2 separate regions of the Homo sapiens genome follow, and region 2 is linked to region 1. The links come from fine-mapping of genetic effects on gene expression. A gene starts in region 1. The other region holds a variant in brackets. All regions are shown on one strand. Distances are between the middles of the regions. Region 1 holds the start of LPCAT1 (lysophosphatidylcholine acyltransferase 1). Region 2 overlaps LPCAT1 (lysophosphatidylcholine acyltransferase 1).

The links.
Region 2: its variant is fine-mapped to the expression of LPCAT1 in whole blood (TOPMed, PIP 0.94).

Annotation. Positions count from the first base shown.
Region 1 is chr5:1,519,857-1,529,737 of GRCh38, reverse strand. It overlaps LPCAT1 (lysophosphatidylcholine acyltransferase 1), which reads left to right and starts at 5,778. Exons shown (of 14, transcript NM_024830.5): 1 at 5,778-6,028. The coding sequence starts at 5,894. RefSeq lists a cis regulatory region at 4,386-4,621, silencers at 5,391-5,790, 5,811-6,120, 6,391-6,590 and an enhancer at 7,751-8,255.
Region 2 is chr5:1,489,729-1,497,728 of GRCh38, reverse strand. It overlaps LPCAT1 (lysophosphatidylcholine acyltransferase 1), which reads left to right. Exons shown (of 14, transcript NM_024830.5): 3 at 2,815-3,029; 4 at 7,871-7,983. LOC124901162 (a long non-coding RNA gene) reads right to left here. Exons shown (of 2, transcript XR_007059103.1): 1 at 5,056-8,000; 2 at 2,210-4,257. Among named protein-coding and RNA genes, the nearest start is that of MIR6075, 17 kb to the left of the region's middle. RefSeq lists an enhancer at 2,593-3,792. The variant C/A (reference allele first, on the strand shown) is at 3,312.

The DNA of each region.
Region 1 (9,881 bases):
CTCATGGATGGATAACTCAATATTGCTAAGATGGCAATTTTCCCAAATTGATCAATAGATTCAACACAATCTCATTAAAAATCCCACCAACCTTTTGTTTGTTTGTTCCTGGATACTTCAGTTTCTTGACAAAATGATTCTAAAATTTTGGCTGGGCATGGTGGCTCACACCTGTCATCCCAGCACTTTGGGAGGCCAAGGCGGGCAGATTACCTGAGGTCAGGAGTTCGAGACCAGCCTGGCCAACATGGTGAAACCCCGTCTCTACTAAAAAATATAAAAATTAGCTGGGCGTGCTGGTGCATGCCTGTAGTCCCAGCTACTCCGAAGGCTGAGACAGGAGAATCGCTTGAACTCAGGAGGCGGAGTCTGCAGTGAGCCGAGATCGGGCCACTGCACTCCAGTGCAGTGCAGTCTAATTTCAAGACTAATATAAAGCTTTAGTAATCAGTATAGTGTGATGTTGGCAGTTGCAGATGTACAGATCCATGGAACAAAATACAGAGTCCAGGAATAGACTCAACTATACATATATGGCCACTTAATTTTTTTACAAAGTTGTCAAGGTAGTTCAATGGAGAAAGAATATTCTCTTCAACAAATGGTGCCGAAACAGTTGAATATTCAGACGAAAACATTTGAAACTAAAAAACCTCTGCCTCCACTTTACTTTATGCCGTGTACAAATGTCAACTTGAAATGGAATACAGACCTAAATGGTAAAGCCAAAACTGTAAAACTTCTGAAGTAAGAAAATCTGAATGACCTTGATGCAGGTAAATATTTATAAAAGAGGATACCAAAACCATGATCCCTAAAAGAAAACGCTGATAAATTGGACTTCATCAAAATTTAAAATATCTGCTCTTTGAAAGACACTATCACTGCTTAACAAACCATCTCAGTCTGTAGTGACTGAAAACCACCACAATTTTCTGTTTGTCATGATTGTGGGTTGAATAGGAAGTCCATCCATTGTACATGATGGAGTCCCTCACTCTGGGGCTGTGCACTCCTCATCTGGAACATCCACAGGTCCTCTTGTACCCTGGGGTCTGTCTTCATACAACCTCTACACAAGCAGTAGTGGTTCTCCATATAATCCATACTGTCAAGAGTAATTTTTTTTTTTGAAAGAGAGTCTCGCTCTGTTCTTGCCCAGGCTGGAGTACAGTGGCGTGATCTTGGCTCACTGCAACCTCTGTCTCCCAGGTTCAAGCAATCCTCCTGCCTCAGCCTCCCGGGTAGCTGGGACTACAGGCGTGTGCCACCACACCTGGCTAATTGTCATATTTTTAGTAGAGATGGGGTTTTGCCATGTTGGCCAGGCTGGTCTCGAACTCCTGACCTCAGATGATCCGCCCACCTCGGCGTCCCAAAGTGCTGAGATTACAGGCATGAGCCACCGCGCCCGGCCCAAGAGTAATTTTTGAAACGATTATTACATCACTGCAGAAGTATGAAGCATCAAGGAATTAACAAAAATACAGAATCTTTATGTAGAAAAATTTAAAATGCTATCAAAGGGCATGAAAGAACATCTAAATAAATGGTAGAATAACCATGTTGGTGAAAAATCGTTCTCAAAATTATAAAGTGTCCATGCCACATCATCCATTTAAAAAATTTTTTTTTTGTATTTTCTAGTGCTTTGAAGCCTTGGAGCCTTGGAGCCTTGCTGGCCCTTCGAGGGCCCCTCCCAGGACCAGCCAGCTCTTACTGAAGTAACATTCTTAGGGAACAGGGAGAATGAACAGTAAGAATGAAGTAACATTCTTACTGAAGTACCCTGTACAATTAATGTGATTCAAAAGGAAGCTTCCAGCGGGAATTTTTAGCAATGGGGACAACTGCTTCCAAAATTTGGATGGAAAAATAAAATTCCCTGAATTCCTACTACAATTCTTGGGAAGAAGCGCCAACAGGAAGGAACCCCCTCTACAGTTACTAAGGCAGACGGTTGAAAGGTGTGAGACAGGAGTAAAGGAGTACGCGGACCGGCGGGTGAGACGGGAGTAAAGGAGTACACGGACCAATGGGTGAGATGGGGCAGCCAGAAGGAGCTTCAGGAACCCTTCTTTCTGTTCATGCTGGAAGTGGACCCACAAGTGGGAGTCTGTGATTGATACGTGGTGTTGAGAATATCAGGTCTCCATGCAGAGAAAAAAATCTTCAAATAGAATAAAATGCAACCATGAAAGGCAGAACTGAAAAAAGATGTTAGTAGAAAATGAAGGAGAATATCTTTTTCTATCCTATAGATAACTCTAAAATTCAAAAATTAAACAAACAAAACAAAAATACTCAGCCTTACCAGAACAAGCAGGTACCTTGTGTTCTCAATGCACTTGGAGTATAGGAAACACTTCTCTGTGAGCTTACACTCTTAAAACAGAGACAAAACCAGAGCAAGAAGCCTCAGGGGTGTGGTTACCAGCCCCAGGGAGCTGTGGGGGGCTTCCAGGAGGTTCCTGAGAACCACAGTGGGGGCTCCCTTTGTAGCTAAAGGGCCCTTAGGGTGGTTTTCCCAAAACTAAGTCCTAATGAGAAACTCATGTTTCCCCTGCTAGACAGAGAAAACTGCTTATACCTCCCCACCCAAGACCAACTTCTCTTAGTCAAGCTTCCAGACCCTCCAGGTCTTAAGAACGTTCCATTACATAGCAGAACCAAAGCCTAAGTGTGAAGGCCCAGTGTGGGTGGAGGAATTTCCTTGCTGCTCCTCCACGCTTGCGCTGATTTCCCCATAAGCAGCCCCTCTCCCCCACCCCTCGCAGTCCCCAGGAGAAAACTGACTCCCACACACAAGAGTGCCCCAGCTCCCCACCCCCTGGGCACGTGCCCTGTGGACCATCCAACCCCTTCCAGCTGCAGCAGAGAAGGAGTCCCCGCTCCGGGCCCCAGGCCTTTCCTTCCTCTGAGCGCAGAATCCTTCCAGACTGAGATGGGCCCATGACACCCCCTCTCACAGGGGTTTTCAACGTCTCCTGTGAGGCTGGCCTGTTGCCTTCCACCCAGGAACATGTCCTGGGCCCCTTCCTTGAGCTGCTGCCCTGGATCCCAGCCTCCCGCCAAGCATCCATTTTCCTCCTCCTGCCCATCACGCTTCCTCCTTTCTCAGGTAGCTGGGAAAGAACCTCTGTAACTCCTGCCCACTCCACAGCACCCTGCAGGGTGGTGGTCTCCACCCTTGCTACTACCACTGGCTGGCCTTCCCAGTTCTCTCCTGGCCAGTCCTCCTGGATGGGGCAGTTCCGTGGACTCAGCCCCTCTGGGGACCTCCGCTCCTTGGCCGCTCTCTGGGGCCTTCTTGGGTTCTGCTTGGTGAGGACGAGTGTGCCCCAGTCCTGCCCCCTGCTCTGCACAGCCCTTGGCCCTGTCACACCCACCCTCCCAGCTGTGCCCCCTTGTGTACTGACCCCGGAGCTGGGCCTCTGCGCCTCCTCCACATGGTGCCTGTGACCCAAGGATCCACTGAGCTTCTACACCAAGGCCACGCTGCCCACAGTGGCTCCACCTAAGACCCCTCTGGGAGAGGGACTCCTCTTTCCACCGACCTTGGCTCAAGGACAACCTGCTGACCCTGCTTAGATTGCCGGGCAGTATGAGGTTCTTCCCCCAGCCTCCCCACCTCCTTCCCTGGGTTCCAACTCACTTTGCACTCTGCAGGTTAAAGCAGAAGGAATTTATTCTCTCCCAGTCTGGAGGCCAGAAGCCTGCGATCATGGCACCCTAGGCCTAGGCTCCCTCTGAGAGCACTAGAGAGGACCTGCTCCAGGCCTCTCCAGCTCCTGGGAACTGCTTGCCTGTAGCAGCAGAACCCTGGCCTTCCCATGGAGCTCTCTCTGTGTCTGTCTCTGAGACCGAATCTCCCTCTCTATAGGGACACAAGCCATTTCAGACTAGGGCCCACCCTAATGACTTCCTCTTAACCTGATCATCTGCAAAGACCCTGTTTCCAAATAAGGTCGCGGCCACAGGTGCTGTGGGTTAGGACTTTTGCATCTTCTGGGGACACAGCCATGACTCTCTGGCAGCTCTCCCCATTGAATCTGGCTCTGCACCATCTCCAGCAGGTTTCCCCTCCGCCACACACCGCTTCCTGGCCTGTGCTTCTGGGAGGACCCCACTTTCATGGCTCTCCAAGTCCAGTCCTGAGGCTGCTCTCATCCCAGGACTGGGACACCCTAGGGCCCCTCCTCTCCAGAGCACTCAGGCAGCAGGTGGGGCCGCCTGGATCGCTGGGGTGCAGGTGCTGCCCTGTGGCTGGCAGGCTTTGTGTCCTGGGCTTTCTTGATGATCAGTTCGGTGAGGAGCCTTGGGTGGCCTCGGGTGCTGGGCTCTGGTTTTGGGGATCAGAGCAAGTGGCCACTAAAAGCCCAGGAGGTGGGTGCAACGCTGGTGGCTGGGCCACAGAGCCACCAATGCCCACCAGCACACAGGGCTCACCCCATCCCCGTGGGTGTGGCACTTGGGACAGGTGCTGCTGCTAGGCATGGGCTGGGACTCTTATGGGGCAGGAATATGGGCTGGGACTCTTATGGGGCAGGAATAAGGCCATGCAGCGGGTCTGGCCTGCCGGGGCCTTCTCTGTGCATGATATGTGGATGGCACAGACCCCTGGCCCTCACCCCGGTCTCAGACACAGAAGGGTCTCTGCCAGCCCGCTGCACTATGAGGTCCACAAGGGCGCAGGCAGGGTCATTGGAGGGGTCGGGGCACTCCCTGGCGTCTGCTGAGGATGGGGCCCAGCTGGGGCCAACACAGCAGTGACATCCCCAGGAGCCAGGACCCTGGGGGGTTGGCCAGGTGGCCCAAACCGGCTCTGTCTGGGTGAGGTCCGTTGGCCATGAAGGAACCAACAGGGCCAGCCGGGGTGAGGAAGCCGTGAGCACTGTGACCGAAGGCCTGCGTGAGTTCTGAAATCCAAGCGTGTTCACCCGGAGGCAGGAGCCCATCCTACTCTCGCTCCGGCTAATTATGGGCCCCACCCTGGGGCTCCTCACACGGCTCCTGAGCACCACAAGGGCAATGCCCGAGCCAAAGCAGCTACGGGTGAGAAAGCGCTGGGATCTCATCGCAGCCCCTGCACAACCAGCACGGACAGTCAGGGCCCCTATGTGCGCCTCCTGCCTGGGCCATCCCTGCGGGGCCTGAGGCCTGAGAGGTCCTGAGATCGGAGGGGTCCTGAGGTCTGAGGGGGTCCTGAGGCTTGAGGGGTCCTGAGATCTGAGGGGATCCCGAGGTCTGGGGGGTCCTAAGGTCGAGTGGACCTCAGGCGGGAGTCGCCTGGGCTGAGGCGCGGCTGGAAGAAGCTCCCTCAGCCCGGGGCAGCTTCCAGGGTCGCCGGTGCGAGCTAGGAGCCCAACGAATAAGAAGAATGGCGTGGGGCCTTCGCCGGAACAGCCCGGGGCTCGGCACCCAGGGCCTGGCCCGCCTTGCGCGTAAGCTGGACGCGTGCCCGCCCCTTCCTCCCTCCCCGCGAGCAGGCGGGCCGAGCGGCGGAAGGGGACGACGTGGCAGCCTCGCGGGCCCGGGGGACCTCCCTTTCTCCTGGCGCAGACCCTGCCGGGGATCCCTGTGCTCCAGTGGCTGCAGGAGGCGCCCCCGGTCCCCAGCGGCCCCGGCCCCCCACAGACCCCAGAGAAACCACCAGGTAGCGGAACTCCGGCTGGTGCCGCCCCTGCCGGCCGGCGGGAGGCGAGGCTTCCAGGGACGCCCCGCCCCGGCCGGCGCTCCCGCTCCGCCCACGTCACCTCCCGCGCCTGCGCGCCCGGCCCGCTCCAGCCGCCGCGCATCCTCGGCCCGCGCCCCGAGACCCGCGCCCAGCTAGCCCCGGCCCCGCTCGGCGCCCCAGGCAGCTCGGCTGCGCTCGCCGCGGGACGGCGCGGCCATGAGGCTGCGGGGATGCGGACCCCGGGCCGCCCCTGCCTCCAGCGCAGGGGCCAGCGACGCTCGGCTGCTGGCGCCCCCGGGGCGGAACCCCTTCGTGCACGAGCTGCGCCTCAGCGCCCTGCAGAAGGCCCAGGTGGGTGCCCAGGGCGCGCGGCCCCGGGAGCCGGCGCGGACGCCAGGGATGCTGGGGCCAGGGAGGCGCGGCCGAGGAGGGGCCGGGGAGGGGGCCTGGGGCGCGGCGCGGCCCTGCGAGCCGCGGCGCCTTCCCTCCCCGCGGCCGCCCCTCAGTTCGCGTCCCCGCCGCCCGCACCCGATGCCTCGGTCTCGGCGCCGGCTTCCCGCCGCCCGCACGCGCATCCTGGTCCCTCAGCGCCTTCCTCGGGGTCCCCGCTTCCCATCCCCGCCCCGCGTTCTGCTCCTCCCCCCAGACCCCTGCACCCTGAACCGGGCCCACAACCCTTTCTCTGCCTCCCAGAGCCCCGACCTCGGCTCCCGCGGGAGGCTGGACCCGCATCGCCGGTCCCCGCGCTCGTCCCTGGTCCGGGCCCCGCCCGCCTTGGCAGGCCCTGCGCGCAGCCCGGGGACTCCGGAGCGGCTTTGCCTGGACGCGGCCCGCGGGCGGGAGGGCACCGCGGCTCTGGGTGAGCCTCGTGTGCGGGGCCTGGTGGTGCCCGGGACAGGGCGCGCGGGCGGTGCGGGTCCCCTGTAGGGTCCCCTGTAGGCGCACGGGTCTCCCTGCTCTGCGGCCGCACGTTGCCTTCTGGGGTGCATGCTTCGCTCCTGTTGTAAGGGATGCTTTCTCGGGGCTGGTCTGACCCGAATCAACTTTATGCAACCTGGGCTGCCACGTGGGAGGGAACGGTTTGCTGAGATCCTGCGATGGGACAGTGGTGAGGGGAGACCCGGGGGCGTCGTGGGGAGGGGGCCGCTCGCTGCAGGAAGCTGCACCGGGGATGTGCTGGCTCAGCCTGGCTTTTCCGGCTACCTGGCTGCCAGCTGGGCTTACAGTTACCTGAGATCCACTCTCAAGAGGACCTTACTTTTGACTCTAGAATAATTCCTAGAAGCAAGCACTGTTTCGGGGCCTATGGGGCTGTCCGGTTTGTAGGGAGCACGCTTCCAATTGTGAGAATAGATTTCCGGGAAGATGGAGATTTGTTAATGCATAAAGTACTTTATCTGAAAGAACCCTGAAGTGAAAAGTTCTTGAGGCCAGTTTGAGCTTGTCATTTTCCCAGGACGCCTGCTTTTGCTCAAAGCCCCTTGATGCGGCTGGTCCTCAGGGTATGGAAGGGGACGGGGAGCAGGAGAGCCCGATGGTGCCGCCCCTCCTGGTGACACACAGGGTGAGGTCGTCCCCAGCCTGGCTCCCAGGCCCTGGCCCCCGTCTCCCTGTGTGTCGGGAGCTGGACTCTGGGGCTGGGGCGGTGCCGGCCCCTCTGCCGCCGCTCTGCCTGGCCCTCTGTCTGCCACACGCTGTCAGCTGCCGTGTGCTGTGCCCCTCAAAGGAGGACTTGGGACACGGTCGCTCATTCTGTGCCCCTCAACCATTCCTCCTCTTCAATCCTCACCCCCACCCAGCCACCAGGCTCTCTCCCTGGTCACTCTCCCTGAGTCACTCCCAGCAGGCTTTCTTCCTCCTGCACTCTGCTGCTCGGAAGCCCTCAGCGGGGACGCCCCCGGATGAAATTCGAACCCCTGCTGTGGTTTCCAGGGCTTCCCCAGCCCTGCTCCTGCCCCAGCTATGGCTGCCTCAGGCATGCTCTCTCTTCCTGCCTTTCCTACTCCCTCCTGGCTCCCTGGGGGGAAACATCAAGCCCCTCCCTGGAGGTCCCCGGAGGCCACTTCGTCATCCCTGTCATAGTTGCAGCCCCCGGTTGAGGTGTGTTCTGTCCAAAAGTGTGCACCCACTGCCCTGGCGAGAAGCAGGGCAGAGACTCTCATGGGTAGGTACAGATGTCAGGGCACTGCCAGAGTGCCCAGAGGGGCCTGCTTTCCTCCCCGAGACCTCAGGGTGCAAGCTGCTCCCAGTGGCTCTTGGGCAGGGGGTCATCGAGAGGCTCCTGGTCCCGAGATTGAAGGCTTTGGGCAGCTGTTCTCCCTTGGGCCGAAGCCAGGCAGAGATCCTGGCTTGAGGTGTTGGGGCCTCTCAGAGAGGGGGCTTGCTTTGTTGCCACTTCAGAGGTTCCATCTGAGGAATTAGGTGTGTTTGTACATCCAGTCGTTTCTGCTGGATGTCTGCAATGTGTGGCTCAAGGGTTTAGTTTGTAAACGTTCTCAAAGTTCTCTGCAGAAACATTTTGCTTTTCACCAAGCATTGCTTTGCAAAGCTTTTACTTTGATGTGATATATTCTTGTAAAGTTTCCACAGAGTGAAATAGCCTGTCTTTCAAGCCAAGAAAGCCTTCTTCCCCAAAGAAAGAAATGGGTCCAGTAGTGGCTGACACACTCAAGAACCCGCAGAAACCCAGCTAAGTTCCCAGTTGAGATAAACCAGTGAGTACCTGCATTTACCTGTGAGCATTTGCCGCCTGGGAGGGGCTGCTGTGTGTCTTCGGATTAGCGCCATGCGGGGACACCTCCTCCTCCAGCCAGCCCATCTGTCATTTAACTACAGATTTAGTGAGGAGCTTAAGTATCTCTTTGGACAGAAAACAGCACATTAAGATCTGAAAAGAGGTATCAAAGCCATCAGGGTCTGTAATACGTGCAATGTTTTAATCCTCTGGCTAAAGCAAGGATATAGATTTAGTAGAGAGCGGTAAATGGTATGGTACAGGATCTTAGTGAGTTCAGCTGAGGTTCTTCATAGTCACACATTCATATATCGTTTTGGAGTCATGAAGTGGTTTCTGTCACCCAGGGTTTTCTCGGTACTTTCCTTGGAATCTGTGGGTATGAGTATTTCCCACTATGGTTCTGATGCGTTTTCCCCATTTCTTTTTTTTTTCTTTTTCTTTTTCTTTTTTTTTTTTTTTTTTTGAGACAGTCTCTCTCTGTCGCCCAGGCTGGAGTGCAGAGGTGCGATATCGGCTCACTACAAGCTCTGCTTCCCGGGTTCACGCCATTCTCCTGCCTCAGCCTCCCGAGTAGCTGGGACTACAGGCGCCCGCCACAATGCCCGGCTAATTTTTTTTTGTATTTTTAGTAGAGATGGGGTCTCACCGTGTTAGCCAGGATGGTCTCGATCTCCTGACCTTGTGATCCTCCCGCCTCGGCCTCCCAAAGTGCTGGGATTACAGGCGTGAACCACCGCGCCCGGCCCATTTTCCCCATTTCTAAAGTCTCTGCTGCTCGGAACCAGAGTTGGCAAGAACTTACATCCTGGAAAGCATAATGCCTTCCTGTGCACCTTGGAGCTGAGTCCTTGGACGGGCGTTGCTGTCTCAGAGTGGAGGAGGCTGCTGGGTGCCCGCCTGCCCACGCTGGCTAATCCACAGAGAGGATTATGATGAGGGTTGAGTCCAGGGACAGATTCTGCCCCTCCCTGCCTGGTGGCCCTGCATAGAATTTACCCAAAAGTGGGCCATCTTTTTCTCCACATTTTTATACAAATACCTGAGTTGTGATTTTTTAAAAAAACTCAGGAGCAGGACTCCGCCCTCTCAGCCTCGCTCCTGAGTCCAGCATGGCCACTGCAGAACAGGAATTCGTGTGCCTGCACACGTTGCCAGGCTCCTCACGTGGATGGCTGTGTTTGCAGTGTGTTCTTGACCCTTGGTGCCCTCCAGGCACACATGCACGGGGATGGGGGTTCCTCAGGCTTCTCTGAGCTGCTCCTGCTGCCCACTGGGTCCCTGGGTGCTGCCTGCCTGGATTCAGTAAGACTGGCTCTTCGCTCAGCCCCATTGCCGGGCAGTGGATGTGGAGGGGTGGGGTGGGCCAAGGAGCCCTGGGCAGTGTACCCGGTGGGAGCACAGGGCAGCCACACCCTGTGGAGGATGTGCAGGAGAGTGCCTGTCCCTTGGGGAGGATGGAGAAGGCCA
Region 2 (8,000 bases), 31 kb after region 1:
GCATCAAACCACTTTATCTGGTCTCCCAGAAGCCAGCAGCTCCTGCCACCTGCGTCTCAGCCTGGGGCTGCCCCTCCACACCTGCCAGCCCAACACAGCCCTCCCACCAGCCACCCAGGGGCCGTCCCTGACCCAGCTAAGCCAGTCCACGTGGATCACCAGACTTGCCTCCTTGAAGCCCCGCCAGACGTGGCCCCAGGGCCCCTTCCTTTGCCCTACCCCACCGGCCTGGCACCGTAGCCAGCACTCAGGCTGTGTACATGTGTATAGGTCCTCTCCAGGGCCGGCTCCACTCTGCCTCTTGCCTCTGCTCACAGCAGAACATTTGGAACCTGCAGAGCCGGGGCCTGCGCCTGCCCCTCACGCTTAGACGTGTGGGCTTCCCCCACCCACCTCCACATGCCAGCTGGCTTGAGGAGATGCAGGCCTCAGCGGCCTTCCTCCTTTTCCCCCTGCATGTTCTGGGAGATTTCCTCCTCCTCATTTCCCAGTCTTTCCTGTGAGTTGCTTGTCTCCACAGTGACAGTCTTGGTTTCTGAGAGTGTTTTCTTGTTCTTTGATGCTCCTCAGCGCCCTGTTCTTCCAGACTCTCTTGGCGAGCGTGGTGGATGTTTTGCACCCCTCTTCTGATGCCCACCCTTTCTGTCTCCTTGGGGTCAGTCCTCTGCTTCTCTGCCATGCAGCTGCTCTGCTCACACGTCTCAGGATTCTTGGGTGTCGTCCGTGTGAGGGCGGTAGGACGGAGTGGATTTCCTGGGGGTGCTGATGGAGATCCCCGCTCCTGTGTATGCAGATAGATCTGTCTCCTGATTCACATTCCCCTGGGAATGGGCTGCCCAGGCACCTGAGCACCCTGGGCTTGTGCTGGCTCCCTTTGCCTTGGGGTGAGTGGGTGCTGGGTCCCCAACCCCACAGCAAGCGGAGCTTTTCTCTGAGGCTGTCATCCACACCAGCAGTCCGGGTTTTCACATGTGGATAGTTTGGGTATAAAATTCCTCCAAGATCTTTAGAGAAGAGCTGAGGCTGCTTTTTCCCTGCCCCGACACCCAGTACAGTTCCCCTGAGCACCGTCTGTCCCTGCAATTCGATTTCGGGGCTGGCAGGTGTGTTCCTCTAAGGGCCGCCCGGGTTTTAATCCCTTTTTTCCTGCTGTCCTCTCTCCTGCCCCTGAACCTGCCCGAGACTGGCTCCTGTGCCCGCCGCAGCCTCCTCTGCAGCCTCGCTTCTCCCTCCGCCGCTGCCTTGTTTCTTCCATCTTAGGCATCAATTGCTGTCTTTTGGCTTTTGTTTTTGTACTTTTTTTTTTTTTTTGTGGAAAATAACATGTGCACAGAAGAGTACATCTTTATTTTTTAGTTTAGTTTTCTTGAGATGGAGTCTCACTCTGTTGCCCAGGCTGGAGTGCAGTGGCGCAATCTCGGCTCACTGCAACCTCCGCCCCTTGGGTTCAAGCAGTTCTCCTGCCTCAGCCTCCTGAGTGGCTGGGATTACAGACGCCTGCCACCATGCCCAGCTAATTTTTGTATTTTTAGTAGAGACAGGGTTTCACCATGTTGGCCAGGCTGGTCTTGAGCTCCTGACCTCAAGTGATCCACCTGCCTTGGCCTCCCAAAGTGCTGTGATTACAGGCGTGAGCCACCATGCCTGGCCAGAAAAGTACATTTTTAAATATGCAGCTGAACAGGTGGTGAAGAAGTGCACACCTGTGTAATCCCCCCTCCTCTAGACAAGCAGCACCCTGGGTTGGTCCCCAGCATCTCCATGTGTAACTACACCATTGTTTATCATCGCATACACAAAGGCCATTCCAAGGTGGCCCCACGAGAGGAGGCTTTGTGCCCTCCTAGCAACCGCCTTGGCTCAGATCCATGGGGACCCCTGTCCTGGAAGTCTTCTGGGAGGATCATCTGTCCCAGGGCAATGTGAATCCAGTAAGGCTTCAGGCTCTTGTTTCTCTGTGCAGTAGTTTTACCCAGTGTGATGCGCCCACTTAACCCAGTGGCCGAGTGAGCCGTGGCTTCTCATGAGGCTGAATCATGTTCTCTGTGTGCCTGACCTGTGGCTTCTCACACACCGTGGCTGTCTGCTGCGTGTCAATTCCCTGAGGTGTGGAATAACAGCCTAATCTGTAGCCTCATATGAAAGAGAATACACACATTTAAAAGGCTAAATTTGTACCTATTTTAAAAAGAGATAAAGAGTACACAAATTCAGTTAACCTAGGCTGATTTTTACTTTATTTTCCAAATTTATTGGCCATCTAATTTCCTCCAGAAACAGCTCACTGTAATAACACAACGCCTGGTTGTGGGAACCCCGGGCTTCCTGTGGAGATGAGATGGGGAAGTTCGCACGCAGGTCTCAGCTTCCGCCCTCAGCTCTGAGCGCCCCCCCCCCCATATTGCGATATGCGTTTTAGGTGTTTTAATGTTTTTCCCATTTCAAAATGATAGGATGCTGATAAATAAGTTGCTAACATGAAGGTCCGGAGGTCTTCTGGCCTGGGACTTGTGCTGTCTGTGTTCCGGAGTCTCATGTTGTCTTAGCACTGCCTGCCGCGTGGCCCGTGACCACCACACAGGGCCCCGCGGCCTCCTTCGTAGGTGAGAGCGCAGCCAGCGAGGACACAGGCGGAGGCCAGGAAGGCGCGGCGTCTTTTCTTCCCTCAAGCAGATGTCCCAGCGGCGGCGACCACAGGAAGCCCGTGGCCTGGACTGCGCCCTGGAGGGCTCTCCCGTGGGACCGCCCCTGTGCCTCACACAGACTCCGAGACTGCGGACGTGTGCCCGCGTGACGCAGCGCCCTCTTTTGCAGGGTTGTGGACTTCCTGCTGAAGGCCATCATGCGCACCATGTGGTTCGCCGGCGGCTTCCACCGGGTGGCCGTGAAGGGGCGGCAGGCGCTGCCCACCGAGGCGGCCATCCTCACGCTCGCGCCTCACTCGTCCTACTTCGACGCCATCCCTGTGACCATGACGATGTCCTCCATCGTGATGAAGGCAGAGAGCAGAGACATCCCGATCTGGGGAAGTGAGTGAGACACCCCTGCTGGGAGTGAGGGACCCTGCCCTGCTGGGAGTGAGAGATCCCCCTGCTGCTGAGAATAAGAGATTCCCCTCCTGCTGGGAGTGAGGGTCCCCCCTCTGTTGGGAATGAGTGAGACCCCCTCTGTTGCTGGCAATGAGGGACTCCCTGCTGGTTTTTAGGGACCCCCCCTTCTGGGAATGAGAGATCCCTCCCTGCTAGGAATGAGGGACCCCCACTTGCTGGAAATGAGTGAGACCCTCCCTACCGGGAGTGAGGGACCCCCCC[C/A]CCACCACGCTGCTGGGAGTGATCGAGCCCCCACCGCCGGGCACATTGGCCTTGTGCCCCATTTTCTGTGTTGGGGTTTCCTGTGTAATTTTCGTTGTTGTAATTGTTATTTTTATTGCTACCTGAGTGCCCTCACTATCATAACAGGCTACAGTGCTTGCTCCAGGTCTGCTTGGCAAGGGTGGCTCACCTTTATCAGATGGCAGTTCTGGAAGTCTTTGGGAGCAGGTCGGCAGGGCTGCCCATGCACCGCGGCTGTGCCGTGAACCAGGGACCTGAGCACCTGGTGCTGCCATGACCCCTCCCCAAAGCCGGGGGCTCACTCCAGCAGAGATTCACCCTCTCGTCATCTGGGGACCAGATGTTCAAAATCAAGGCGTCTCTGGGCCGAAGGCCCTGTGCGGCCCCTTCCTGCCTCTTCCTCCTCTGGGGGCTGCGTCCCTCTGACTCTGCCTCAGTGGTCGACTGGCCTGGCTCCCTCCAAGTGTCTCCTCTATGAGTCTCTTATAAGGACCAGTCATTGGGTGATCCAGGATGCTCTCATCTTGAGATCCTTAACGAGTTACCTCTGTAAAAACCTTTTTCCAAATAAGGCCTCATTCACAGGTTCCAGGGTCAGCATGTGGACCCATCTTTGGGGGCCGCATCCCATGGACCCACTGCTCTGGGAGGACTGTAGGGAGCCCTGCGTGGCCCCTCACCCACCTGTGCGCAGCCCTGACCCACCAGAGCTCTGTCCTCGGTGCTCTTCAGGGCATCTGGGCCCGTTCTGTCCTCGTGCTTCCTTCACAGCCGCCATCAGCACAGCACAGCACGTTCTGGGGCACAGCGGGTCCTGGGTTGGCAGTGGGCGGTGCTGAGGGAAGGAGCTGCTGGGACGAGGGGCGTCGCCTATGGCCGGGGCCCTCACCTGGCCACTCCTGCCGGCTCTGTTTCCATGCAGCACCTAACGTTAGCATTCATATGACAGTTTTCTAGAAAATATCTGGGGGGACACATTCAGTATGGACTGGGTGGGGACACATTCTGTGGTGCTGACCACTGAGGGTGGTGGCCACAGCTGGGATAGGAAGGCTGGAAGTGGGGTGAGGAACCCTGGCATGGCCCATGGGGGATTGGGCCTGCAGCAGCCGGAAGGTGTCCAGACTGTGCCTGCAGCTGGGCAGTTGTGGGTGGCCTGAGTCTGCCTGGGTCAGGCTTGGAAATCGGGGATGGTCCTTGGTGGGACTGGAGGGCTCACTGCACTCGGCTGGCTGGGGAAGCCTGGAGGAGGCTGGACAGGCCGGCACTGGAGGCGAGACTGGACTGCAGGCACCATCCGAGTGATGGCCTTGGCTCTCACACGCAGGTTTCCCCGCTCTGCAAGCTCCACAGGCTCATGGGGCAGCCCCAGCTCCACTCAGCACCCTTTGCATCCTGTGGTTCTGGCATACCCAGGAAACCACATTTGCCCCCCCACTGTGGCAAAGGCCCATGGTCGTTCGTCATCTGCTCAGGGAGGGGGATTGTGGAGCTGTGTGCCCAGGCACCCTCGCAGCTGCAGGGGTCCTTGGACAGGGGGGCTGGCCCACCCAGAGTGAATCTGAGCGTTGGCCGGGCTCTCCCTGTGCCCTTGGTGCCTCCCTGTGGAGATCACCAACACGAAGGAGTGTTTGGTGCGGTGATGCTGGACGTTGTAGTCCTATCTTTCTAGAGGCCCGGGATTCCACCTCTTCCAGATCAACCCAGGTGACCCAGCACTGACCTTCATCTCGGCGCAGCAGGAAGAATGGCCACAGCCATGCTGCTGTGTGCAGGGCCCTCGTGGAGCCCTGCGTGTTTCTTGTCATTTCAGAGATAATCCACGGACCTGCGAGGGAGAGGATAGTGACAAGCTTATCAGAAATTTTCGTTAGAATTCAGACTTAGCAGGAACCACATTTTGCTCCCTGCTGTCCTGGCCTGAAAGGGCCATTGTCCTGGGGCGTGGCTGATGACTCCTCTACTGCGCACCTGGAGCACCCTCTGATTCGGGAGCTCAGAACCATCTCCCCAGGCTCCAGCTCAAAACCATCTCCCCAGGTCCCAGCTCAGAGACGTCTCCCCAGGCCCCAGCTCAGAGACGTCTCCCCAGGCCCCAGCTCAGAGACATCTCCCCAGGCCCCAGCTCAGAGACATCTCCCCAGGCTCCAGCTCAGAGACATCTCCCCTTGTCCCAGCTCAGAGATAATCTTCCCCCATCCCAGCTCAGAGACATCTCCCAGGTTTCCAGCTCAGAGACATCTCCCGTGGTCCCAGCTCAGAGATAATCTCCCCTGGTCCCAGCTCAGAGACATCTCCCTGGTTTCCAGCTCAGAGACATCTCCCATGGTCCCAGCTCAGAGACATCTCCCTGGTTTCCAGCTCAGAGACATCTCCCCTGGTCCCAGCTCAGAGACGTCTCCCAGGTTTCCAGCTCAGAGACATCTCCCCGGTCCCAGCTTGTGGTGACTTCTGGTTCCTTTCGTGGACCCTTTGACAGCTCACAACTTTGTTGAAGAGATGAATGTTGAAAATGTTCAAAATATTTTCATTTTTAGATGTATGAATACCAATGAAAGTGATCAACCAGGTAGATTTTTTCCTTTTCACATTCTTAGTTTCCTTTCAGTGACCTTCATATCCGCACCATCCATTTACAAACCTTGTCAAGGAAAGTTTGAGCCTCAAATGCCCAAAAGACGGCAGAACGCTGTCACCTTCTTGCTGGCAAAATGCGCCAGTCCCAGTGTGGCTGTGCACACGGCGTGGTGACACCCTTCCCTCCTCAGGGCTCCCGGGGAGGAGCTGCATCTCCTTGCTGTCCTCACTGCCCAGTTCTCAGCGTGAAAGGCACACCGGGCAACCCACATGAAGACGCACGGCCCAAGACTTCACTCAGAGTCCTCCCCCTGCACCCCCCACATTTACCCCCGGACCCATCTGAGTGTGAAACGCCCCCACGTCACTGTTCTGTTCTTTGCCGTTATAGACAACTTCTGAAATCTCTACTCTGTTCACAAAACAAACCAGCTGACAGGATTGCGAAGGTGGCAGGGTGGCATCTCCAGACCCCGTGTGCCCCGGGACGACCATGGGACGCTTTGGCCAAAACAGTGGGCACCGAAAGACCACGCAATCAGGGCCATTTCTTTGACGCGTGCGCCATCCTGCGAGACGACTCCGCCATTCTTCCCTTCCGATATCGTCCTTTTTAGCAGAGTTGGGAATAACCAATGAGCAAGGATGAAATAGTACTGGAATCGTGAAAAAGCAAAATGATTCAAGACATAGGAAAGACCACAGAGACCCAACAGACAACCACAGGATAGAAGGAATTTTCTTTTTTTGGCTTCAATTTTCTCGTTCTTGGAGGAGAGAACCTCCAAGAAAGAATAAAAGTCATGAAATGCTACTCCTTACAAGTAATAAAAACGCTAAGAAAAGAAACTGGAAACTGAACTGGGGTGGGGAGGTGGGGCTGACCTGCAGCAGCCTAGGAGCCCGTGGTGGGGTCAGAGACACCTTCAGTTGGCCTGGGGGGCGCCGAGTGTGGATCCTGCTCACCGTCCTCAAAAAGGAAGCTCCACTCAGGGATAGTTTCATTTTAAAGTCTTCAGAGTTTTCTCTTCTAAGAAGTATGTTTCCACGTTCAATCCTCTTGCATAAAGACAGGTGCCGTGGCCACGTTGCCTTGGCTGAGCACCAGCCTTCATGGCGGGGTGTCCCTTGTACCCCAACCCCGCAACTTCCAGGAGGCTGTGGGGTGCCATGGTTAAACTGGGGCTGTGCTACAAAGCACCACAAAGCTGGTGGCTTAGAACAACAGGAGCATATTCTCCCGCCGTCTAAAAGCAGAAGTGCCAGAACAAAGTGCTGGCCGCATTGGGCTCTTCTGAAAGCTCCCTCGGCCCTCCCGGCTCGTGGTGGGGGCTGTGGCCACATCCTCCTATGGCCTCCTTCATCATTGGCCTTCTCTCCCCCTCTTCGTCTCCTCTTCCCATAGGGACCCTCATCTGGGATTTTAGCTTGAGCATCTGCTTTGTCTCCTCTTCCCATAGGGACCCTCATCCGGGACCTTGAGCATCTGCTACCACCTGTTTCGAAATGAGGTCCCATTCCCGGTACCAGGAGTGAGGACTTCAGCTTGTCTTTTAGGGGATGCAGTTCAACCCACAGGGGGAAGGCGGGGTCCAATCTAGGGACCTGGCACCTTCAACCCTGTCCTCTGTGAAGACTGGGTCTAAAGACTTTCTGCTTCCTGGCGGTTGTCTTTCATTGACCTCCGTTCTGTGCTCCGTGTCCTCAGTGGGTGCCATGGACTTGCTGTTTGTTACTTGTGGCACTGAGGCTACAGGGCTTCCTGCTGTCACAGACATGGGAAGCCCGGGTGCTGTTCCCGTTCCCTCAGTCAGGGACTCACAGCCCACCCATGGCACAGCCCCTGGGGCATCTGGAGTCTCCCGCCCCACTGGGCGCCATGCAGCAGCCCCCTCGTTCCTCAGCCCTGCCTGGCGGGAGCCGTGCATTCCACGTGATCCGTCTCCCCTCCTCTCTTCCAGCTCTGATCCAGTATATACGGCCTGTGTTCGTGTCCCGGTCAGACCAGGATTCTCGCAGGAAAACAGTAGAAGAAATCAAGAGACGGGCGCAGTCCAACGGAAAGTGGCCACAGGTAATGCACGTAGCCCT